Linked DNA regions of Homo sapiens. The protein of the gene in region 3 purifies or fractionates together with the protein of the main gene of each other region. This does not show direct contact. Each region holds a gene or a part of one and is shown on either strand. Other genes may lie near its edges.

Region 1 (3,500 bases), on a different chromosome or scaffold from region 3:
TAGTAAGGAAAGAGACTGTTCCTAAATCTGGTATTTCTTTTGATGGCAGAAATTGGGGACAGAGAAGCAATAAAGCCTTTCTTTTCAAGATTATTATTCTCTCCCTTACGTCATGTGCTTCTGTTCCAAAATTTGTCTTGTAGCCTAGCCTAAATATACCACTCTAAATCTGGGTTGCACTAAAATTTTTATTAGAGTCAAGTACATCCCGATTTCTAATGAGCTGTATGACTCAAAAGTCTGAATTTGCACCAGGCCAAGATTAGGCCAAATAATGCATTATTTTTGGTGGAGTCCTCTGAATCATGCTTTGCTCTTTTACAAGTGGTTAGTCATGCTGGACAAGCATTCAGCATGTGGATTGCAGCATCACTGATGTGAACACCCAGGATGTTTTCTGTAATGGATTGGTTGTTCCAATGTCTAGACAACAGCTACAGAACATGGATGAAACTGAGACCAATTTTGAATAGCAGAGGCTTGATTCTTCAAATATATTGAAGAGATTATAAGGGAGATGAAGAAAGTTGGGCTCTAGCTTCATTGAGGTTCAAATGAGAGGAAACTGGGTTAGTAGACAGACAATGAACATCCAGGAAAGACTTTTTTCAGGCAATAAGAGCCTGTAAGACACTGGAGTTTTTTATGAACCATGTCTTTAGTTGGAGAACCATTTGTCTGAAATGAATCAAGTGCTGGAGGTGGAAGCAGGTGTTGAGTGCTCTCTGCACCCCCTACTTGTGCTGTGACACTGAACTGTTCTCTAGGAAAAGGGACAATGTTGGCTCTTTAAATACTGATTTTGGAAAGCTCCAAAGGAGTGCTCCTCAAATGTCTTCCTTCATCAGTTAGAGGCAAAATGGCTAGTGTGTGCTCAAATCCTAGTGCTGCCCTTTCTAGGTCTTAAGCTAATTCTAAAATTTCTCAAATCTTCAGGTTTTTCACTGGTAAAATAGGGATAGTGATAACATCAATCTTCGAAGGCTACTGTAAAGATTAAAGGAGAAAAGACTATGCAAACTGCTCAGCGCAGAGCCTGTCACGTAGTAAGCTCACAACAAACAGTAGCTATTATTGTTACTTGGCAGTTTGCTCAGAAGAGCCTTTTAATTCCCTGACTCCAGGGTGAGGGACATGATGGTAATCTAACGAAATACCATGTAGCTGAGTGTTGTGGTGCATGCCTGTGGTCCCAGCTACTTGGGAGGCTGAGGCAGGAGGACTGATCAAGGCCAGGAGTTGAGGCTGCACTGTGCTATGATCACATCTGTGAATAGCCACTGCATTCCAGCCTGGACAACATAGTGAGATCCTGTCTCCAAAACAAAAACACAAAATACAACTAAAAAAAACCATAGTAATATTATGAACTGGCTCAATGAACAATTCTCACTTTCTCAATTAGGCCTATTCTTAAAATGCTTTGTTACCTTGTAAACCCCATTCTTTAACCCCATCCCAATCTTCTTCCTATGTTTTACTTTTTCTTTCTTTCTTTTTTAACAGCACTTATCACCTTTTAACATACTATATAATTTACTCATTAAGTTTATTGTTTATGGTTTGTGTCCTCTGATAGAATATAGGCTGCACAATGGCAGGATTTTTGTTATTTTTTGGTCACTGATGTACACTGAGCACCTAACACAGTGCCTGAATATGTTGGACCCCTTGGTTAAATGAACAATTCTGGGCTAAACAATGAAAGTGATGTCTTCAGCCTGACAGAGCTAAAGATGACAGCACTTAGGACCTAGTGAGTGAAGTGGTTACATAAGTTTCACTCACTCATTCACATAATAAACATCTGAGGGGACAGTGGTGGGAACTGAAACAGGAGAAGTGGATCCACTGCAGCCAGATGCGAAGGCCTTGAATGCCATGCTAAAGAGTTTGAACCTCATCCTATATGCACAGGTAGACCTACGAAAGGGTTTTTTTTTTTTTTTTTTTTTTTTTTTTTGAGACAGAGTCTCACTCTATTACCCAGGCTGAAGTGCAGTGGCGCAATCTCGGCTCATTGCAACCTCTGCCTCCCAGGTTCAAGTGATTCTCCTGCCTTAGCTTCCCGAGTAGCTGGGACTACAGGCACACGCCCAGCTAATTTTTGTATTTTTAGTACAGATGGGGTTTTGCCGTATTGGCCAGGCTGGTCTCAAACTCCTGACCTCAGGTGATCCACCCGCCTCAGCCTCCTAAAGTGCTGGGATTACAGGTGTGAGCCACCACGCCCGGCCTGGAAAGGGTTTTAAAGTAGAGGACTGGCACGATCCAATTGTGCTTTGGAAGGATCCCTCTGCTGGCAGTGGAGGGACAGGGGAAATGGCAAGGGGTTGAGAGATGTGGGGCCACCGGAGCCCAGGAACAGCCAAGTGTGAGATGATGAAGGTGGGAGAAAGGCAGATTTGAGAGGTACCTGTATGTGGAGGGAGGTAAGAGAGAGGAAGGAAGAGAGGATTCTCCAGGGCTTCCAGTTAAGCCTCTGGGTAGAAGAAGATGCCGCTAACCAGAATAGGGATTAAAGGCTGAAGAGTAACATTAGGCAGGAGGGGCAGCTGTAGGGGTGTTCATGATTTAGTTTGGGGGGCATATGAATATTAAGGGCCCTCTGTGAAATACATTCATGCAACAATTATTATCTAAATGTGTGTCTGACCATGTAAAAATCTCCTTAGACTTGGGACAGAACTGGAGTCAGAGATACCAATTTGGGAAGGAGAAGGATCTAGTGACAGAAACTTGGGAGTGCCCAGTGGGTAGGTACTGGCTATAATCATGGTAAGAAGTGACATGTGGTAGAGATGTTGTGCAAACAGCAGGCCAGAAGCTTGCTCCTTAGAATCCTAATATCTAAATGGTGGGTGAAGAAAGAGGACCGGTCAAAGGACAGTGAGAAGGGGCTGAGAAGCAGAAGGAAACCCAGCAGAGAGTGAGATGGAGAATGTCATCACTCAGGGAGTCCTAAAATTCACTCCGGGAAAACCCCCAATTCTTTACATTTATTCCCAGGCAGACTGAAATGCTGGTAATGCAGATAAAATTTTCCCTATTGCTTCATCGTAGAATCCTTTTACTGGAAAACAAACAAACTGGGTGGGCTATGGGAACAGATACATGAGTTCTCCTCTCTGCTAATTTAACCAACCACACTGACTCCCATCACAGAACTGCACAAACAAGCCAGAAACTGAACCCTACCCGGAATCCCCTGGTGTATGAAGGGAGCCTAGCTCTGGCTGACTCTGCTTGTGTTCACAGACACTTTGCCTCATTGGTTCGTGCCTCAGCTTCCAATCTGGACATGGAGCACAATAACAGTGGGCCCACTGCTCTCCGAATTCCTGCGCGCACTTGAAGGTGAGTTAAGAAATGCTCATAAAGTGCTTTGAGCCCCTAAAAGAAAGAAACGTGAAGTCTATACATTATCTTTGTAAGCCTGTGAATACGTCTTTATCTATAAACGCCTCATCTTGAAAGAAGCTCTCCTCCAGGGCAGTGTT
Region 2 (3,500 bases), on a different chromosome or scaffold from region 3:
TTGGTTACTCTGAAGAAAAAAACTTTTTTATTTTTTTTTGCAACAGAGTCTTGCTCCATTGCCCAGGCTGTAGTGCAGTGGCACAATCTCGGCTCACTGCAACCTCCACCTCCCGGGTCCAAGTGATTTTCCTGCCACAGCCTCCCGAGTAGCTGGGATTATAGGCATGCACCACCACGCCTGGCTAATTTTTATATTTTTAGTAGGGACAGGGTTTCGCCGTGTTAGCCAGGCTGGTCTCGAACTCCTGACCTCAAGTGATCCACCCCCGTTGGCCTCCCAAAGTGCTGGGATTACAGGTGTGAGCCACTGTGCCCAGCCACTGAGTAGCATTTTATGACTGGGTTGATTAAAGCAGAGAATGTCAGCTTTATAAAAGGGACCACCAGTACAATTTGAACAAAAACTTGGGACATTGTCAAAGTTGTCCACTCCGACTAAAAGGATTCTTAGGTCAGGTTTTGTCAAGTTACCTGCAGAAGCTACTGAATGCGATATTTATTTATTTGTTTGCTTATTTATTTATGAAACAGAGTCTCACTCTGTCACCCAGGCTGGAGTGCAGTGGTGCAATCTCAGCTCATTGCAACCTCCACCTCCTGGGTTCAAGCGATTCTCTTGCCTCAGCCTCCTGAGTAGCTGGGATTACGGGCATGTGTCACCACACCCAGCTCATTTTTGTATTTTTAGTAGAGACTGGGTTTCACCATTTTGGCCAGGCTGGTTTCAAACTCCTGACCTCAGGCGATCCACCAGCCTCAGCCTCCCAAAATGCTGGGATTACAGGCATGAGCCACTGCACCCGGCCTGAATTTATTTTTTTAAGAGATAGGGTCTTGCTCTCTGGCCCAGGTGGGAGTGTAGTGGCATGATCATGGCTCACTGCAGTCTCAACCTCCTGGGCTCAAGCGATCCTCCTGCCTCAGCCTCTTGAGTAGCTGACGCTACAGGCATGCACTACCACACCTGGCTAATTTAGTCTTTCTATGAAACCTAAAAAGAATGATTGGTGAGTGATAGCAGTGGATAAAATTAGTCTTAAAGTTGCAGCAGTGCGGTTCAGCAACTATTAGATAAACTGGTTTCAGGTTAGAGGCCGCTTCAGCAACTAGGCTTGCAGGTAATAATTTTTGGAGCAATGCTGTGTGTCCTGAGTGCTTTTCCCCTTGGCCTTTTTTTTTTTTTTTTTTTTTTTTTTTGAGATGGAGTCTCACTCTGTCACCCATGCTGGAGTGCAGTGGCGCGATCTCGGCTCACTGCAAGCTCCGCCTACTGGATTCAAGCCATTCTCCTGCCTCAGCCTCCCGAGTAGCTGGGACTACAGGTGCCGACCACCACACCCAGCTAGTTTTTTGTATTTTTAGTAGAGACGGGGTTTCACCGTGTTAGCCAGGATGGTCTTGATCTCCTGACCTCGTGATCCACCCGCTTCAGCCTCCCAAAGTGCTGGGATTACAGGCGTGGGCCGCCGCGCCCAGCTCCCCTTGGCTTCTTGACTCTGTTGCAGCTGGGTATGGTGATAATGACCCAGTCCATAAGATCAGCGTTCACATGTGGCTCATGACTAGACCGCGCGCCTCCTTGTGGTGGTACGGCAGTGGGATGCACATTTTCCTTTGACCAGCGTTCTCCCAGCTGTCGCACCGCTCACTCCCATGCTGTTACAGGTCACCTCTTGCAGGGGCATATTTGATCGCTGGGCACTTAGTGTTTGTTGTTCCATCATTATGCAAACAGCCGCCTCTTGATGAACCTTCAGTGACCCAGAAGAAGGTGTGAGAAGTGTGGCTGGACCCCGCTTTCGGAAATGCTCTGGACTCCCCTAACGTCCTGGGGAATTACAGGGTTCCTTCACATGTTTCCAGTTGGAAGCAAGTACTCCACTTACTTTGGCTTTTGAAAACTATTTCCCTAGCCATCGACGAGTACAAGCCCCAGGATGCTACCACCAACCCGTCCCTGATCCTGGCCGCAGCACAGATGCCCGCTTACCAGGAGCTGGTGGAGGAGGCGATTGCCTATGGCCGGAAGCTGGGCGGGTGAGTGCCTGGACTCGGGAGGGTCCCAGCTAGGCCCTCGTGCTAGTCTAGTTGGCCTTGCTTCCCTCCCTAACTGAATTTTAGTTCTCAAACACCATGAACTCAAGGGGGGAAAAAAACCCTATCTTTTTGCCTATTTTTGTTTATTGAAGTGTAATCTGCATGAAGTAACCTGCACCTGTGGTAAATGAGCAGTTCAGAGAGTTTTGCCAATGTGTGTACCCTGTAAATACCACCCCAGTCAAGATGCAGAGCACTTGCAGACCCCCACAGGCCCCTCCTCCCCTCCTGTAGTCAGTCTCCCCAGCTCTGGTAACACTTACCTTCTGGCTGTCATTTTATTTTTTACTTTTCAGACGGAGTCTCGCTGTGTCACCCAGGCTGGAGTATAGTGGAGCAATCTTGGCTCACTACAACTTCCGCCTCCCTGGTGCAAGCAATTCTCCTGCCTCAGCTTCCCAATTAGCTGGGCTTACAGGTGTGTGCCACCACTCCTGGCTCATTTTTGTATTTTTTTTTTTTTTTTTTTTGAGACAGAGTTTTGCTTTTGTTGTCCAGGCTGGAGTGCACTGGCACAATCTCGGCTCACCGCAACCTCTGCCTCCCAGATTCAAGCGATTCTCCTGCCTCAGCCTGCCGAGCAGCTGGGATTACAGGCATGCGCCATCACACCTGGCTATAATTTTTGTATTTTTGGTGGAGACAGGGTTTCACCATGTTGGCCAGGCCGGTCTCGAACTTCTTACCTCAAGTGATCCACCTGCCTTGGCCTCCCACAGTGCTCGGATTACAGACGTGAGCCACCGTGCCTGGCTTTTTAATTTTTTAATAGCTTTTATAACTCCCAGAATGTTCTCTGGTACCTGTTTGCAGTAGCTCCCCACTCCCTTACCCAACCAAGCAACTGTAGAGCCCTCTTCATGCCTGTGGCTTTGCATATTTTAGATGTCATTTTAGATTCTCTTCAGGGTAATAATTCAAAGCTTGAAGATGGTGCCGAGCAGGCAACGTGGGCACCACACAGGAGCAGGTCCCTCTCTGGTACTGGCTTTGCTTAGGTCCAGGTGGCTGGTGAGTGGCTCCCCTGACCATGTTGTGACAGCCACTCTGGACACTGAGTCTGACCCTCTCCTCTCTCTTCTTAGCTCCCTTTTCCTCATCTCGTGGTGTTGCACCCCTGTGGCATCAGTGAGGCCTTGGTGCTCCTGTTATTGGGTGACATTGGTGCCTTTGCTTGGCTGGGTGATCAACAGATGAGCCCTGCACCCATGTCCAGATGGCCCCAAATTTTTTTTTTTTTTTTTTTTTGAGATAGAGTTTGGCTCTGTCACCTAGGCTGGAGTGCAGTGTCACAATCTCAGCTCACTGCAGCCTCTACATCCTAGGCTCAAGCCAGCCTCCCACCTCAGCCTCCCAAGTAGCTGGGACTACAGGTGCACGCCACCACACCTGGCTAATATT
Region 3 (3,500 bases):
CCAGCCTTAAAGAATCATATTTCAGACCAGGCACGGTGGCTCACGCCTGTAATCCCAGTACTTTGGGAGGCCAGGGCAAGCGGATTGCCCACAATTATTTATATATATATCGGATTGCCCACAATTATTTATATATATGTGTGTGTGTGTGTGTGTGTGTGTATTTTTTGTTTGTTTTGTTTTGTTTTGTTTTTGAAACAAACTCTCACTCTGTCGCCAGGGTGAAGTGCAGTGGCGCGATCTCGGCTCACTAACCTCTGCCTCCTAGGTTCAAGCAATTCTCCTGTCTCAGCCTCCCAAGTAGCTGGGACTACAGGCGCACGCCACCATGCCCGGCTAATTTTTGTATTTTTAGTAGAGACAGGAATTTACCATGTTGGCCAGGATCGTCTAGATCTCCTGACCTGGTGATCTGCCTGCCTCAGCCTCCCGAAGTGCTGGGATTACAGGCGTGAGCCACCACGCCCGGCCAATTTATATTTTTTAATTAAAAAAATGTTTGTTTTACTTTTTTGTAGAAACAGGATCTCGCTATGTTGTCCAGGCTAGTCTTCAACTCCTGGGCTCAAATGATCATTCACCGCAGCTTCCCAAAGTGCTGGGCAGTGATTACAGGCATGGGCCACTATGCCCAGCCTGTTACCCACGATTATCACATTAAGTTACTTTTGGGTTATATATCAGCTAAAAGAGGCAGACCTTATTCCTACATCCAGACATTGCACAGAACATTACCTAAACTGCTTCCTTAAAGCCTATTTAGAGGCCAAGTGTGGTGGTTCATGCCTGTAATCCCTGCACTTTGGGAGGCCAAGGCGGGCAGATCGCCTAAGGTCAGGAGTTCGAGACCACCCAAGGTAACATGGTGAAACCCTGTCTCTACTAAAAGGCAAAAAATTAGCCAGGCATGGTGGCATGTGCCTGTAGTCCCAGCTACTCAGGAGGCTGACGCACAAGAATTGCTTGAGCCCAGGAGACGGGGGGTGCAGTGAGCTAAGATCTCACCACTGCACTCCTGCCTGGGCGGGAAAAAAAAAAAAAGCCTATTTAGAACGTCAGGTATCAGTCTTGATAGAAATAACAGAAGAAAAAAGGCAAAAGAGGATTGTGCACATATACTATATCAAAGCAACAAAATGTCTAGATAAAAGAAATTGCCAGCATCTCCCAGCTGTCACACTCAGGGCACCACAGAGATCAGGGTGGCAGAACTGCTCCTGGCTTATTCGTTCTCAAAGTCCAGCTCCCTTGTACAGAGATGGGCACAGTGCTGATGGCACTCACCACGCTTCTTTGTTCCCTCCTGGCATGAGCGATGGGCCATACCGGGCCCCTTCCTCTCCACCACTGACTCCGCTCCCCACAAATAAAATTCCCTTGGCCTTGAGGTCTCGGCACCGTCTCTGAAGGACAGAAAAATAATTTCATTATGCTTCCATGTTTCATTATGCTTCCATGTTTCATTATGCTACCCAAAAATGTTTCCCTTATAAATGAGAGGAAGTATAAGATAGGAATGGAGAGCCTACATTTACAGGAAATGACCCAAGGATCTAGGAATAACTGATGACTCAGGAAAGTTAATCCCCTATGTGTAGGAGTTAAAAAACAAAACAATACAACTATGGACATTCACGATACCTACCTCATCCCCAAAGTAAAATAATTAAGCCAAACACACATTGGCATTTTACTGGAAAAGACCTTGAATAAGACTCAACGAAGAGTAGGTGTAATACAACTTAATGCCATTCAGCACTTCAGAGCACACAGGAATTCCCTCAGCATTTGATACCATTAGAGGAGTGGTTCTAAACCAGTTATAGACTGACATATCATGGATTACTTGGAAGGGGAAGGGGAGGAGTTAAAACGTAATTCTCAGCCTGCTGTATCTGAGTTAGTCATCCTTTGAGTTGTATGTGTGACTGAGAATCTCACCCACCAAGTGTCTTTTTTTTTTTTTTTTTTTTCAGATGGAGTTTCACTCTGTCGCCCAGGCTGGAGTGCAGTGGCATGATCTCGGCTCACTGCAACTTCTGCCTCCCAGGTTCAAACAATTCTCCTGCCTCAGCCTCCCAAGTAGCTGGGACTACAGGCGCATGCCACCATGCCAGGCTAATTTTTTGTATTTTTAGTAGAGACGGGTTTTCGCCATGTTAGCCAGGATGGTCTTGATCTCTTGACCTCTTGGTCCACCTGCCTCCGTCTCCCAAAGTGCTGGGATTACAGGTGTGAGCCACCACACCCGGCCCTTCTGTTAAGTGTGTCTTAACAGAAAAAAAGGCTGAGAACTATTGTATCAGTAGTAATCTCAAAAAAATCAGTACCACAGGGCAGTTCACCCTACTGTCACATATGCGATGCTGACACTTTTTTCTAGAATGTTCTCGGAACCTGGAAGAATCTGGACTGAAGAACACTTACTGTGGTGTCCCTATATTCAGAATTTCCTCCGTCAATGATGATGTCACCAGTATCCAACAATGGTACCTGTAACCAGACACCAGCATTAAGATGGACCAAAAATGAAACATACCTTGGCAAATTAAAACAAACAAGAATTTATTCCAAATAAACATAGTCTAAAAAGAGTCTCGTTCTGTTGCCCAGCTTGGAATGCAGGAGTGCGAACATGGCTCACTGAAACCCTGAACTCCTGCAGTGGTGTGAACATGACTCACTGCAACTTTGAACTCCTTGAACCACAATGCCCAGCTAGTTTTAAAATTTTTTTTGTAGGCCAGGCGCGGTGGCTCACGCCTGTTATCCCAGCACTTTGGGAGGCCGAGGTGGGTGGATCATAAGGTCAGGAGATCAAGACCATCCTGGCTAACATGGTGAAACCTCGTCTCTACTAAAAATACGAAAAATTAGCCGGGCGTTGTGGCAGGCGCCTTGTAGTCCCAGCTACTCGGGAGGCTGAGGCAGGAGAATGGCGTGAACCCGGGAGGTGGAGCTTGCAGTGAGCTGAGATCGCAACACTGCACTCCAGCCTGGGGGACAGAGTGAGACCCCGTCTCAAAAAAAAAAAATTTTTTTTGAGATGGAGTCTCACCATGTCGCCCAGGCTGGTCTCAAACTCCTGGGCTAAAAGCCTCCTGGCTTGGCAGGAGGCCAACGCACCCAGCCTACTTAATCTTCAATAATCCTCTCTGTGGCCAGAGCTGCACACTATTTAAAAGTTTAGGGCTGACCAGGCTCAGTGGCTCACACCTGTAATCCCAACACTTTGGGAGGTTGAGGCAGGAGGATCGCTTGAGCCCAGGAATTTGAGACCAGCATGGACAGCATAGCAAGACCCCATTTCTATTTTTAAGTAAGTATACAGATTAAACACTGACTATAATGTGTCTAGAAGAGAGTGGGGATTCAGTAAATACATATCAAATGGTTTAGTGTATGAATGAATGATTTTATGACAACAGTTCGGAGGTCAGGAAGAGACAGAGCCTTGAACATGAATATCTACCTACAGCACACCAACCAGGCTGGGCTTT
Region 4 (3,500 bases), on a different chromosome or scaffold from region 3:
AATTTACAACTGTTACAAATAGCATTTGTATCTATATTTAAAAAGCTCTTCAATTGACCAAGCAGATGTTATTACAGATTTTTGTCTTTGATATGATAAATTTCCCATTAATTTAGAAAATCTGTGTTTAAGGAATGTGCTATCATTGCATAGTTGAACTGCAATTTGTGAAAGTTCAAGCTGCTGTACTGACAAACCATTTGACAAATTTGTAACTGAGACTCTTTTAAGCAAAGACTAACTTCTGGAGCCTAATGGTCTGTATTTTCTGTTCAGACGCATACACTTTAATTTCTTCTCTTTTGTGGGTCCAGGAGGTGTGATAGACATTACCTATATGTATACATATACATACATAGATATATGTCCATATTCCGTCATATGTTTGCAGCCTAAGTTGTATGTGAAGTTGTGTATACTTTTTAAAAAATTAAAAATGTTCACTTTAAGCTTTCACTAACTTTGAAAGAAATTTCTCTTTGTCTAGGTTGAAGAAATTGTGGATATTGGAGCATTTGCTCCAGAAGACATCCATATTCCTCAGATTTATGTACATCGCCTTATAAAGGGAGAAAAATATGAGAAAAGAATTGAGGTAATTGACTTAGCTGCTTTGTCAGTATTCATGGATCCAGTTACAGAGATAGTGCATCCCTGGGGCCATTCGAGATGATGGGGAACTAGAGCTGAGCAGAAAGTCTGGTCTTGGATCTTAGTAAGAGCTTCTCATGTGTCTATCATCATGGGGATATGATGGTCTATGCCTCTGTGCAGGCTGACAGTGCCTTGTCATCACAAGATATGTATCACCATGCCATGAGATTCTCTAGGCTGTGTCTACTAGGCTTCTACTGTCCTAATTTATGATCTGTAGTTTTTCTGGCTGTCTTAGAGGGGAGATAAGAATAATCATGTCTTTGGTGGTTTTATCCCTGCTGTAGTCTTATCTTAATGTTTGATTGTTCAGAATTGTCTGTCTTGAAGGTGCTTTGCACTTTTCTAGAGTGTAGAATGTCATTCTAATTAGCTTCAGGCTGTGGGTAGCTGGTGAGTATGAGATTGTGGCAAGGAGTGTAGGTACCAGGAGCATTGAAGGTATTCTAAGGCCAGTGTGTTAGTCCCTTTTGCATTGCTGTAAAAGAATACCTGAGACTGGGTAATTTATAAAGAAGTTTGTTTGGCTCACACTTCTGTGGGCTATACGTGAAGCATGGCACCAGCATCTGCTTCTGGTCAGGACCTCAGGAAGCTTTTACTCAGAGCAGAAGGAAAAGGGGAAGCAGGCATGTCACAAGGCGAGAGAGAGAGAAGGTGCCAGGCTCCTTTAGACAACCAGCTCGTGTGTAAACGAACAGAGGGAGAACTCCTGCATTTCCAAGGGATGGCACTAAGCCAATTCATAAGGGATCTGCATCCATGATCCAACACTTCCCACTAGGCCGCATCTCCAACATTGGAAAGTACATTTCAACCTGAGATTTGGAGGGGACACATATCTAAATCATCAGCCAGTGAGAGTAGACAATGGCCACCCTACCAGAATTACTGTCATGATTTAGAAGTGTCTAGGGATCAGCAACAGAATAGACATACAGTAGGGTGCTAGAGATACCCACTACCTTGTAGATATCAAACAGGAAGACATTTTATAATACAAAACCAGTGTCAGGGGCCCAGGAAGAAAGGATGAGACTTTTGCAAACACGAGCCAGAGTTTGTGTCAAAGAGACTTAATAGAGGAAATAGTTTCCTGGCTGGTTTCTGGGTATTTCTATGATTCCTGTGGTGCATTTGTGGTAAAAATAGTCTGGACTTTGCAGGTGGAAACAGGCAATTGGCAGCAGCAACACCTGGTAAACACATTCTGACAGCCCTGAAAAACACATTCCCAAAGTCTGTTCCTCTTTCATTCTTCTGGCCAATCCCTGAGCACCAGAGGAGAATTTAGTTGGAAGAATAACAGAAGGAGCAGACAGTGTGATAGTAACAGATTATTTGCTTCAAACAGACTGAACAGCGTATCTTCCTCTTTAAACAAATCTGACCACTTTCATTTAGTTCCTAAAGAATTATTTCTACCATCAAATATCACCCATAGTATTTTTTAAATATCTGGTATATTGCAGATTTGTCTCATAACAATGGGAGAGAGCTCATCTTTTTTTCCAGTAAAATTTATTTCAGCAGTGATAAAATACAAAGCATACCTCAACCACGAATAATTTATTTCTGTTTAATTTAAAGCGTTTATCAATCCGGAAAGAGGGAGATGGGGAAGCCAAATCTGCTAAACCTGGAGATGACGTAAGGGAACGAATCATCAAGAGGGCCGCTCTTGAGTTTGAGGATGGCATGTATGGTATCCTTTATCCTTCTGAGCCCGGGCAAAGACATAGCCTTTGCTTTTCCCATATTGATCAGGCTATTAGACCTCTTGCATAGTGAGTCATCTCTAGTCTATGGTAACTTTTAAGGTAATTAATCAATTTTTTTTTTTTTTTTACAAAATGTGGCATATAATCCAAAGGTGTCAAGATACATGACAGATATCTCTTTGCCTTCTTGAAACAAAATGGCAATCAATAATTTGCTTAGCTATTTTCTAATACCCATTAGATTTCAGTACAACTTGCATTTAATGGGAGATTATTGGGAAAAGAGATTACCCAAGATGAGTGTTTTCAAATCTCAGAATTCCTAGTGATAACCAGTGCTATTTACTTTCTGTCTATCCTGACATTTGCATACTCATTGAAAGATCCAACTTCTTAACAACCCTTTTATTCTCTTGACAAAGATCCTGTGATTACCCTGTTATATCTAATATTTTATGAGGGTATTCAACAAATGATTCAAATTCTGCTTTAGATACTTTGTCAAAAAAAGAGGTAGAGTAGACATAATTAATGCAATTAATATTTGGATTTTGAATGCATTTAAATAACAAATCTGTTCACCATTTTGCTAGTTTTCACTACAGTAGACATTGAATTATATAATACAAATAACACATACAAATACAGATCGCATATGATAAAATGAATGTTTGTTGAATGGTGGATACAGTGAAGCCATACTTAAAAGACCTAGGACAGAAAGAATGAGAGACATGACAAATGTCTCCATTCTGTGAGCTTCCCTGGTCCATGAATGTCAGTCTTCCAGACTGTGATCTTGACTGGGAGAACTTTTCTTTTTTCCCTTTCTTTTTACCTCTACCTCATTTTTGTTCATTTTTCAGTTTATACCTTGTGTTATGGTGCAAACTCACATAGGGGAAAAGAATAGCATGTTGCTGCTCTTCCAGTTCTTGTATCAGCAAGGTGTGGTGTCAACCAAGTTGAGTTAGTAGGTAAAAGTTGGTCACTGGACTTCTCAACCCGTCTTATCCTGACTTACCATTGATATTTAAACACTGACTATAATACTGATTTTAGGTGTTCTTTATTCAGTTATTGTATTGCCTGTGAAAAATATTTGCAAGTCAGTTTATGCAAGTG
Region 5 (3,500 bases), on a different chromosome or scaffold from region 3:
AATCTGATACTACATTTGTAACTTTAAAGTTTATTAAATTTGTTCACCATAAACATTAAATTGCGTTAAAGATTACGTTAAAGCTAAGAAAAAACCATGCACTCCAAATGATTATACCCTTCATTACATGGTAAAATATGAAATGACATAAAAGCCAAATATTTCTCTATTCAGCCAATTTTTATTTTTTTCATGTGTTTTGGAGCAAATATTCATAGACGTCTTTTATATTAGTTTTAAATATTAATAGGTAATATTAGTCATTGTCCAAATAGATTTCCTTAGAGTTAGCAGTAATATTTTTAAAAATTCCATTACTATGGACTGCTTCATGACTAGTTCTCATAATGTCAATTCATTCATCACATGTGGAGACTAACCCAGAGCATAGATGGTTTGGCAAGTTCAGCTCTGCCACTTGGAGCATAGCATGGACCTGACAACTACCCAGAGAATGCAAGGGTTGTCCTCACCTAATTAAGGCCTCCTCTGGAGACCTGTGTGGCCTGGGGTTAAGTGTTTGTAGTTACCCAGCAGAGGTCAGTTATGACTATGCTCTGTGTTCACTGGGACTTAGGGTTACAGTATGGGACACATGTACTTGAGGCCTTCTTTAATGTATTTGTGAAGCTTAGACAAATACATCCTTGGAAACTTGATGAAGATGTGGCTTATGGACCGGGTGTGGTGGCTCACACCTGTAATCCCAGCACTTTGGGAGACTGAGGTGGGTGGATCACCTGAGGTCAGGAGTTCAAGACCAGCCTAGGCAACATGGCAAAAGCCTGTCTCTACTAAAAATACAAAAAATTAGCCAGGTGTGGTGGTGGGTGCCTGTAATTCCAGCTGCTCGGGAGGCTGAGGTATAAGAATCGCTTGAACCCGGGAAGTGGAGGTTGCAGTGAGCTGAGATCATGCCACTGCACTCCAGCCTGGGTGACAGAGTGAGACTCTGTCTCAAAAAAAAAAAAAAAAAAAAAGACATGGCTTATGATTTTATTCTATTATCTACCTAAAAGGAAAATTTTGACTTCATATAGTTAATATTAAAATGATAAATTATATAATTAAAAAAATAAACATGCTTTGATTTTCTTATATTTTTAGAGATTACAGTATTTCAGTAACTATCAAGGAAATTATTCATTGTTTAAAAATGTGTGCATTTATCATACTATGCCCTTGAATATCTTTTTTCGTTTAGTTTATACATGAAAGCATCCATGATGAGGTTGTAAACAGACTTAAAAAGGCCTATGCACAGATCCGAGTTGGGAACCCATGGGACCGTGAGTATCTCCTTCTGCTTTCAAAGCGATCCCTTTTTGAGAGCTGTTGTTAACAAGTGTTTCTGATCTGAGTTTTGGAGTTTCTTTCCCTTTCCTGAGAGGCGTGAAGGCACATGAAGCAGGTTATTAGGCTTTGGTGTATCGTGTCTGCTCCTAGGTTTCGACCCTGGCTGCTTGATGTGTGCTAGTGGGTGAGACTGGGAGAGGTTGTTTAGATGGAATGAGATTTAGTGTGCTTCTCTCTCATTACTATTACCCTTGTCCAAGCCGACACCATCCCTCTTGTGCAAGGCTGCAAGAATCCCCTAACTGACCTTTCTGCATCCATTGCTACAGAATGATTTTTAAAATGCAATCAGATAATTCACTCTCCTGCTTAAAATACCCCTCAGTAACTTCTCATTGCTTTTAGATTTTTTTTCCTTTCTTTTTTTTTTTTTTTTTTTTTGAGACACAGTTTCACTCTGTTGCTCAGGCTGGAGTGCAGTGGCTTGATCTCAGCTCACTGCAGCCTCCGCCTCCTGGGTTCAAGCAGTTCTCCTGCCTCAGCCTCTCGAATAGCTGGGATTACAGGTGCATTCCACCACGCTTGACTGATTTTCATATTTTTAGTAGAGACAGGGTTTTGCCACGTTGGCCAGGCTGGTCTCGAACACCTGACCTCAAGCAGTCTGCCTGCCTGGGCCTCCCAAAGTGCTAAGATTACAGGTGTGAGCCATTGCGCCAGGCCTGCTTTTAGATTAAAACCGAGAGTCCTCTTGATTTCTTCTTTTTTGCAGGCTCCCGATCCTTCCTGGTCTGCTCTCTGCCTCCTGCCCCGCTTGCCTTCTCACCAGCCTTTCTGTGTCTATTTTCCCTCTTGCTCCCAGAGCTCCACCTTCTCCAACATCCTTTCAGTGTTCCAGGCATGCCAGGCTCTATCCTACTGTGCTGTCTGCTGGAAACATTCTTCACCCAGAGTGGGGATGGCTCTGCTAACATGCCTCCTCCTCATAGAGGCCTACCTACATCTTCCTTCTTCTTTGTTGCTGGGTCACTGTCAGTGCTCTAGTCCCCAGCAGCCGTAACATAGGACAGCATCATTCTCTTCCCCCTTGAATTATACACCAACTACTGAGACTGTGATGTTTCCTTAGAGAATGGTCACACTGTAATGAGTAAACTGACCCTATATTTTGAGTGCAGTGCTTTGAGTAATTGATAGCCATTCCTTTAAACTAGAGATTGGCAAACAGACTTGGCTCTGCCTGTTTCTGTAAAAAAAAGTTTCTCGGCACATACCCACTCATTTGCATGTCATTTATGGCTGCTTTTGCACTACAATTACGGAGTTGAGTATTGGGATGGAGATCACGTATGTCCTCCAAAGCATAAAATATTTACCATCTGGTTCTTTATGGAAAAAGGATGCTGACTTATGTTCTCAATTGAGAGCATATAGGAAGGGATTGGTCTGTTCATTGAGAAAGCTGTTCTAATAATAAAACGATGCCATAAAGGGCAAAATGATGAGCCAGCCTTCCTTTTCTCTCTCCAGCTAATGTTCTCTATGGGCCACTCCACACCAAGCAGGCAGTGAGCATGTTTCTTGGAGCAGTGGAAGAAGCAAAGAAAGAAGGTGGCACAGTGGTCTATGGGGGCAAGGTAAGGGATGCTCTGAGATCAATTGTGACAGCTTTTTAACCTTCTTTTCCCTGAGACACAAGCAGGGCTCTGGGCATATTGGAAAAGCCACCCCATTTGACATCCTTCTTCTCCTGTCTTTATTTATATATATTATTATAAAACAAGGAAACACATGTTTTTGTTTGTTTGTCTGTTTTTGAGACAGAGTCTTACTCTGTGCCCAGGATGGAGTGCAGTGGCGCAATCTTGGCTCACGGCAACCTCCGCCTCCCAGGTTCAAGTGATTCTCCTGCTTCAGCCTCCCGAGTAGCTGGGATTACAGGTGCATGTCACCACACCCAGCTAATTTTTATATTTTTTGGTAGAGATGGGGTTTCCCATGTTAGCCAGGCTGGTCTCTAACTCCTGGCCTCAAGTGATCCACCCACCCTGGCCTCCTAAGGTGTTGGGATTACAGGCATGAACCACCACACTTGGCTCTGTTTGTTTTTGTGACAGGGTCTTGCTCTGCCACCTAGGCTGGAGTGCAGTGGTGCACGATCTCAGCTCACTGCACCCTCTTCCTCCTGGACTAAAGCAATCCTC
Region 6 (4,054 bases), on a different chromosome or scaffold from region 3:
TGCTGTCTCCTATGGGTTAAAATGAAAAGGATGTATCCTACAGGTGACGGTAGGGACAGAGGCCCTCCCAGTAGTCACGTTAAGCTAGTACTGACAGAAAAAGGAAAAGCCTGTCCAGGTGGCTGGGCAACCCTGCAGCGAGGCATAGATGAGCTTGTAAATCAAAGGAAATGACCAAGGTGAGTCTCAATCCTTTTAGAGGTTTATTTTGCCAAGGTTGAGGACACATCTGAGAAAAAGGAACACAAAATCACAGGAACATCTGTGATCTGTGCTCTTTCCAAAGAGGGCTTGAGGACTTCAATATTTAAAGGGAAAGAGCAGGCAGTAGGGGAAAGTGGAAAGTAAAAAGGGAAGGTAGATAAAAGGGGAGAGTAGTTGCATTCTTTGGGGCCTTTGATCAGCATTCACTGAATGCGCATGTTACATTCGTGAAAGGAGGTCGTAGAGGAATAGTCAGTTATGCATTCGTCTAGTGCTTGGTGAATCTGCATTTTTACAAGATTAAATATAGGGTAGAGGAAGCGGTCAAATTGCATTTTTCTCCAGCGAGAGGAAGGATGACTCCTAGACCTGTCTTTGTCCCATACTTGGGAAGATAAGCTGTTAGTTTACATTGCCAAGATGAAATTCAACTGATCTGTTTTAGAGTAAAGATCTTGCGGGCCAACAAGGAATTTCCTTGGGGAGGTGTGTGGCCTTTGATCTTTGTAGCTATTTAGCAACAAAATGGGAGGCAGTGTTGCCTGACTCAGTTTCCAAGCTTGACTCTTCCCTTTGGCATAGTGAGTTTGGAGTCAAGAGATTTTTATTTTCCCTTCACAAGCTGAACAGGAGCCTTTGGAGAGAACGCTCTGGACCGGTGAGTGAGCCATGAGGTCGGGCCACAGGCTCTGAAGTCGTGAAGCCTTGGGACGGAGCGGGTGGTGCTTCGAGGTCAGTGTCACGGGAGGGAGGTCAGGGTCAGGGTCAGACGTGGAGCCCCGTGGAGTGCGGAGTGGTGACCCCTTCGTTCGGGGGCGGAGGGATGACTGAGCATTTATAACTTTTGTGTATCTCCCCGTGGGTGCAGCCCTTGGCCAGCGAGATGCTTTGACACAGCCCCTTAAGATGTTTTAAGGGCTATCCCATAAAGCCGGGAAGGCACAACGGGTGGAGCTGGCGGCCGCCGGGGGCAGGCACTTTTGAGCTAAGGAGGAAGCGGGGGAGGGAAGGAGGGCGGGAAGGACGCGCCACCTACTTCCTGAATCCCCTGCAAACCCCAGAGGAGCTCGGCCTGCGCTGCGCCACGATGTCCGGGGAGTCAGCCAGGAGCTTGGGGAAGGGTGAGGCCTGCCCGCCGCGAAGAGGGGGTGATCTCGGCGACCCCCGGCGGCATGTTCGAGGCTGCTCCGGGAGCCCAGCCGCCCGGGAGCGCCCCACCGGCGGGGAACGGGTCGGAGCTGCAGTGGGACGCGGGGGCGGTGGGATACGGGGGGTCTCGACACCTCTCTGGGCCGTAATCGCCTTCGCTTCTCCCCGGCAGGAAGCGCGCCCCCGGGGCCGGTCCCGGAGGGCTCGATCCGCATCTACAGCATGAGGTTCTGCCCGTTTGCTGAGAGGACGCGTCTAGTCCTGAAGGCCAAGGGAATCAGGTGGGCACCCAGGCGGGGGACGCTCCCCGAGCCGTCCGGGAGCCTGCTGCAGGCGGCGGGGTGGGGTGGGGTCTCAGCCCCCTTCTACCCCCCTCCCACCAGCGTCCTTTACTGCACATTAAACTATTCTCGGCCCTTTGGAAAATAGCAAGTTATAGGCCATTCCCCTAGGAAAAATAGGCCACAGATTCCAACGGTCTAGGACACCTCATTTAGATTAACCAACCATTTAATGGATTAGAAAAGCTGAGGCTCCAGTGATGTTAGTGATTTGCCCGGTAATAACCGGCAGCAGCTCTTTTAGCTTTGGTAGGTCACGAATTCCTGGTCCAGAGTCCTTTCGCTTTCGCCCTATTGTGATTTCCCGTTCTTATTCCAGCTTAACTGTTAGTTGTTATTCTGAATGTATTGTTCCCTCCTAGAATAGTAATTTACCCCAGTACAGCAGAGTTTAGACCCTGACCCTCCTAGGGTAGTGCTGAGTTTACTGCACATATTCCTGTGGATTGGGCTGTTGGTTGAGTCAAATAGAGGGAAGTGTCTGTCTAGCTCATCCTTCTGCAGAGCCTGTTTTGAAACTAGCATAGTTTTTGACTTACGGGCTATCCACAGGATATGTGCAACAGTCACTTGACTTTTCTCTGACACCAAGTATCCATTGGAACCACTTCCCTTCCCATGACCTTTGGATGTCTGTTGATTAGACATTTATTAGATACCTTTGGTGTGGAAGGTTCTGTGGAAGTTTAAAACAAACCCCCTATTCTTAAGGAATTTTCTGTCTGTGTGCTTAGTGTTTGTGAACTAATTTTAGTCTTCTAAGGGGATAATCTTTAGGGGTAGGCAATTATTTTCCCTAAAAGAAAGGTAAAATGCATTTAAAAAATACATTTGAAGGGGATTTGTCATTACTTCACTAAGAAATGCATCTCATTTGGATGAGATTATGATTCTGAACACATAGAGTACTTACTATTTCATAATGTTTCTCAAAAACACTGTCATATTTGCTGTGATAGAACTCTTTTATTGTACTAAGAGAAATCTAATGTAACCAAAATTGAAAAAAGACATTTTTTGGTACTCATTTATTTGAAAAGTCCAGGAGCATGACACAGCTGGATTCAGAGGCACAAAGTCCTGGGTTATGTGCTTCACCCTGGACCTTTAGTTTGAAAACAACCCTACCTTATTTACTGGGGCAGTTTTCCAAAGGAACATTGAAACTATCTTCCCCTAATAGTGTGGGGTAGAGGGGAGGAAGAGAGTGGTTAACAGCTTCCAGACAGTGCAAACAACAAAGGTCTACTACATTAATAGACCAGTTTTAAGCTTGAGCCCGAGGAGGCTTTTACTGGGAAAGTACTAGATTTTAACCACATGATATGACTTAACAAAGCATGGTTTTCTCTAAAAGATGCATCTTCCAACTTGCTGTGGCAGGTGTGTAGACTTGTTGGCTCACAATGCCAGCTTACCAAAATTCATGTGTGTTCTGACATACTTTTTTTTTTTTAAATAACAAAAGCCCAGGATCTTTTTGTTTTCATAGTAACAAAAGTTTTTGTTTTATAGTTCAAAAATGTTGATAATTCTTTGGCAAGGAGCCAAATAATTTTTTTTTTTTTTGCAATGGCTGGTACTTAAGTGTCCAGTATTGTCAGCACATGAACCTTTTAAATTACATGCACACCTGTGCTCATGTTCAAATTGGATGTTCCTTTGTTTACATGGGGGATTATGTATTTAAATCCTCAAATGAAATGCTGTTCTAGCTACAGCTGTGGATGGGAAAATAGAAAACAAAAGGTATTGGTGTCTATTTTTTTTTTAGTAATCTGTTCTATTGAACATTTATTCAGCCTTGACAATCATATGGACCTAGCTCCTTTCTCTTAGTTCCTCTACAGTCTCAGGCAACATACAAGATAGACCTAAATACAATCTGACTATAGCCTGGACTTCACCTGTTTTCTTCCTTTTTGGTTTACTTTGTATGATTTACTCAGACAACATTTTTTAAAAAATCAGTACATGGAGATTTAATCTGAAAGCTTATTTTGTGGGTGGATTTTTTTTTTTTTTTCGAGACAGGGTCTCGCCCTGTCACCCAGGCTGGAATGCAGTGGTGCAATCATGGCTCACTGCAACCTCTGCCTCCAGGGCTCAAGCAATCTTCTCACCTCAGCATCCGGAGTAGCCGAGACTACAGGTGAGTACCACCACACTTGGCTAATTTTTATATTTTTTGTAGAGATAGGGTTTCATCATGTTGCCCAGGCTGGTCTTGAACTCCTGGGTTTAAGCAATCCGCCCACTGCAGTCTCCCAAGGTTCTGGGATTACAGATGTAAGCTACCAAGCCTGGCCTTGTGGGTGGATTTTAAGGATTCCTTAATATCTTCATAAAAACCAAGAAAC
Region 7 (3,500 bases), on a different chromosome or scaffold from region 3:
ACGATAAGGTTCACATGTTAAGTCCTAAGCCTGGGGCTGGGCACTTGGTGGATGCTCCACAGATGTTAGCCATCTCCATCGTCAGCTCTTCTAGAAAGGTGGTTCTTCTGGAAGAAGAAATGCCTGTCCTCCCTCAGGGCTTTGAGACTGGGAGCTGTACTGGATTGAATAGTTTCCTCCCACTGCCCCCTAAATTCATGTTTACCTGGAACCTATGACTAGGACCTAATTTGGAAATAAGGTCTTCGCAGAAATAATTAGTTAGGTTAAAATGAAGTCTTCCTGCATTAGAATGGCCCCTAATGCAATGACTGTTTTTTGTTTTTTGTTTTTTTTTTTTGAGATGGAGTCTCACTCTGTTGCCCTGGCTGGAGTGCAGTGGCACTATCTCGGCTCACTGCATCCTCTGCCTCCCAGGTTCAAAGATTCTTGTGCTTCAGCCTCCTAAATACCTGGGATTACAGGCACCTGCCATCACACCTGGCTAACTTTTTTTTGTAGTTTTAGTAGAAACTGGTTTCACAATGTAGGCCAGGCTGGTTTCGAACTCCTGACCTCAAGTGATCCACCTGCCTTGGCCTCCCAAAGTGCTGGGATTACAGGTGTGAGCCACAGCGCCCGGCTCAATGACTGGTATCTTTATAAGAAGAAGACAATCTGGAGACAGACACAGGCACAGTGGGGAGAACACCAAGTGACGCCAGAAGCAGAGTGAAGCCTCCACACGTCAAGGAACATGAAGGATTCCCGGCAGCCACGAGAAGGTGGAGAGGGGCATGGAACAGATTCTCCCCCAGAGCCTCGAGAAGGAGCCAACTCTGCTGAAACCTTGATTTCAGACCCTGGCCTCCAAACTGTGAGAGAATAAATTCTTGTTTTAACCCACACAGTTTGTGGTGATTTTTTACAGCAGACAAGGAAACAAATGCAGGTGCCTAGTCTGGAGGACCTTGATTTCACCTTACTCTCTGCTGTCCATATGAAGGACAGCAAACAAGGGCTTGGAAAACCCCAAATAATTTCAGGGTACTGGGGGCTGAGTTGGGGGAGCAAGTCTTATTTCACGGCAGCTCATTGGTAGAAACTGGAGACATGGTCCTATTCTGGGGGTGACAGAGCCGGGCACCGTGTTAGACACTTATGTGCACAATTTGTTTCTTTTTGTGGAGTATGGGTTCTCACCATGTTGCCCGGGCTGGTCTCAAACTCAGTTGAGCTGAAGGCAATCCTCCTGCTTCTGCCTCCCTAAGTACTGGGGTTACAGGCATGAGCCCCTGTGCCTGGCAGTGGGCACATTCTTGAATCCCCTGCCAGTGAAGAAGGGCTCACTTTGGTCTACACAGATAAGGAAACTGAGGCTCAGAAGTCCTTCCAGCACTTACTCTAGCATGTTCCTTGCACTTGTCAATTGCTGGGGAGCTGGCAGTTTGAACACACCCCTCCCTCTCCCACAGAGTGTGGCCCTGGGATGGTTTAGATTAAAGTCTCTTCCATTTAGACACCCCTTTAGGCCTGCCTGCCACACTCACACACACACATCCCCACACGTCCTTACGGTTAGGAGTGACCACGTGACCAGCTCTTAATCAAGTGTTAGAAGTATTATGTGAGATTTCTGGGAAGGCTGCTAAAGACAAGAAGGGGGCCACTCTGTCCTTCCCTTCTTTTTCCTTCCTATTGCCTGGAATTGAGATGCGATGGCTGGAGCTCCAGGAGCCATTTTGGCCCATGACGAAACCTTGAGGGTAGAGAGTAATCCAGCTCCAGCAGGGGAGGGCAGTGCTGCCGAGTGGTAAGTATGCAACAGGTTGCACAAAGGCGGGAATAATGAACACACTAGAGGGGGTGAGAGAGGGAGTGCTTGGGGGACTCTCAAAGGGGGGATGTCTGAAATTGGTGTCAAAAGATAACCAGGGCCGGGCACGGTGGCCCATGCTCGTGAAATCCCAGCACTTTGGGAGGCTGAGGCAAGCGGATCACCTGAGGTCGGGGGTTCGAGACCAGCCTGGCCAACATGGTGAAACCCTGTCTCTATTCAAAATACAAAAAAATTAGTAGGGCATAACGGCACATGCCCGTAATCCCAGCTACTTGGGAGGCTGAGGCCGGAGAATCTCCTGAACCCAGGAGGCAGCGGTTGCGGTGAGCTGAGATTGCGCCACTGCACTCCAGCCTGGGTACAAAGCAAGACTTGGTCTCAAAAAATAAATAGACAAATAAAATAAAATAAAATAAATAAGAAAGATAACCAGTGCCGGCAGGCGCTGCCCAGCACTTTGGGAGGCTGAGGTGGAAGGATCGTTTGAGGCCAGGAGTTCAAGGCCGGACTGGCTAACAGAGCTTGACCATGTCTCAATATTAAAAAAATAAAAAATAAATTAAAAAAAACAACAACAAAGAAAACCAGGAGTTCAGGAATAGGGGTTGGAATGGGATGGAGGGATAGGGAGGCATCCCCTGCAGAGGACACAGCATGTGCAAAGCCCCCAAGGCTAGGAGCAGCACAGCCCGTTACGAACTGCTGGAACAGCAGGCACAACACCATGCCGAAGAGCTCCAGTGTTGCCCCGGAGGCTGCTGCGGGGAGCCATGGGTGGTGGGGGCGGGGCAGGGGAGGGGGTGTTACCTGGAGGTCCAGCAGTCCTGTGAGCAGGGCCTTCCCGGCATGGGCTGCATTATTTAGCAGGTCCTCCCGCTTGATGATGTTGATGACCTCAGCCAGCAACAGGTTCTTGGACGGGTCCCCCAGCCAGGTGTTGAAGATCCGGTAGGGCTGGAATGAGGAACGGGTGTTGGAAGGCTTCACACACATGCACACCCTGCAGGAGTCACTTACCCCAGGCGCCCCGCCTCCTCTCTTGAAGAGGAGAGAAACTAATCTAGTGGGCATCTACCAGAGGCTGGCAGGGGAACACACCCAATCTCGCTGAATTCTTCTCTACCAGAGGCTAGCAGGAGAACACACCCAATCTTGCTGAATTCTTCCAACAGCAGCCCTGCATGTAGGAACTGCTATGGGGAGGACCAAATCGTCCCATGCACTGGGAAATCCCTCAGTCCCAGGAAACCAAGACAGTCAGTTCCTTAACTCCTATAACCCTCATTTTATACAGGAGGAAGCTGAGGTTCTGGGAGGCTAAGTGATTTGTCTAAGGCAAACGTGACTTACAGATGGAGTTGGGACTGGATTGCTGGCAGTGACCCTCAAAGATCATCCACTTTACCCCTCCATGAATGATTTAGGGTGGCCATGCGGCTAACTGAAACACCCTTCCCAGCCTCCCTTATGGCTAGAAGTGGCCATGTGACTGGGTCTTAGTCAAGTATTGGAAATAGACATATTATGTGAGATTTCTAGAAAGGCTGCTAAAGACAAGAAGGGGGCCACTTTGTCCTTCCCTTCTTTTTCTTTCCTACTGCCTAGAATTGAGATGTGATGGCTGGAGCATCAGAAGCCATTTTGGACCATGAGGCAACCTTGAGGGTAGAAACTACATGTA

The links.
Region 1: the proteins of PGD (region 3) and HEBP1 fractionate together in Homo sapiens (co-fractionation; one large-scale study listed by BioGRID). This does not show direct contact.
Region 2: the proteins of PGD (region 3) and TALDO1 fractionate together in Homo sapiens (co-fractionation; one large-scale study listed by BioGRID). This does not show direct contact.
Region 4: the proteins of PGD (region 3) and OXCT1 fractionate together in Homo sapiens (co-fractionation; one large-scale study listed by BioGRID). This does not show direct contact.
Region 5: the proteins of PGD (region 3) and ALDH7A1 fractionate together in Homo sapiens (co-fractionation; one large-scale study listed by BioGRID). This does not show direct contact.
Region 6: the proteins of PGD (region 3) and GSTO1 fractionate together in Homo sapiens (co-fractionation; one large-scale study listed by BioGRID). This does not show direct contact.
Region 7: the proteins of PGD (region 3) and ABAT fractionate together in Homo sapiens (co-fractionation; one large-scale study listed by BioGRID). This does not show direct contact.

Annotation. Positions count from the first base shown.
Region 1 is NC_000012.12:12,976,266-12,979,765, forward strand, and holds part of HEBP1 (heme-binding protein 1), read right to left. Parts: intron 3,358-3,500; exon of another isoform or gene 3,166-3,357; intron 2,757-3,165; exon of another isoform or gene 2,676-2,756; intron 1-2,675.
Region 2 is NC_000011.10:753,964-757,463, forward strand, and holds part of TALDO1 (transaldolase), read left to right. Parts: intron 1-1,915; coding exon 1,916-2,039; intron 2,040-3,500. UniProt on the Homo sapiens protein: Catalyzes the rate-limiting step of the non-oxidative phase in the pentose phosphate pathway. Catalyzes the reversible conversion of sedheptulose-7-phosphate and D-glyceraldehyde 3-phosphate into erythrose-4-phosphate and beta-D-fructose 6-phosphate.
Region 3 is NC_000001.11:10,402,064-10,405,563, reverse strand, and holds part of PGD (6-phosphogluconate dehydrogenase, decarboxylating), read right to left. Parts: intron 2,494-3,500; coding exon 2,428-2,493; intron 1,404-2,427; coding exon 1,285-1,403; intron 1-1,284. UniProt on the Homo sapiens protein: Catalyzes the oxidative decarboxylation of 6-phosphogluconate to ribulose 5-phosphate and CO(2), with concomitant reduction of NADP to NADPH.
Region 4 is NC_000005.10:41,804,426-41,807,925, reverse strand, and holds part of OXCT1 (succinyl-CoA:3-ketoacid coenzyme A transferase 1, mitochondrial isoform 3 precursor), read left to right. Parts: intron 1-487; coding exon 488-595; intron 596-2,244; coding exon 2,245-2,359; intron 2,360-3,500. UniProt on the Homo sapiens protein: Key enzyme for ketone body catabolism.
Region 5 is NC_000005.10:126,553,720-126,557,219, reverse strand, and holds part of ALDH7A1 (alpha-aminoadipic semialdehyde dehydrogenase isoform 1 precursor), read left to right. Parts: intron 1-1,204; coding exon 1,205-1,289; intron 1,290-2,826; coding exon 2,827-2,933; intron 2,934-3,500.
Region 6 is NC_000010.11:104,253,638-104,257,691, forward strand, and holds the start of GSTO1 (glutathione S-transferase omega-1), read left to right. Parts: upstream 1-1,254; 5' UTR 1,255-1,291; coding exon 1,292-1,325; intron 1,326-1,525; coding exon 1,526-1,634; intron 1,635-4,054. UniProt on the Homo sapiens protein: Exhibits glutathione-dependent thiol transferase and dehydroascorbate reductase activities. Has S-(phenacyl)glutathione reductase activity. Also has glutathione S-transferase activity.
Region 7 is NC_000016.10:8,775,617-8,779,116, reverse strand, and holds part of ABAT (4-aminobutyrate aminotransferase, mitochondrial isoform 1 precursor), read right to left. Parts: intron 2,774-3,500; coding exon 2,627-2,773; intron 1-2,626. UniProt on the Homo sapiens protein: Catalyzes the conversion of gamma-aminobutyrate and L-beta-aminoisobutyrate to succinate semialdehyde and methylmalonate semialdehyde, respectively. Can also convert delta-aminovalerate and beta-alanine.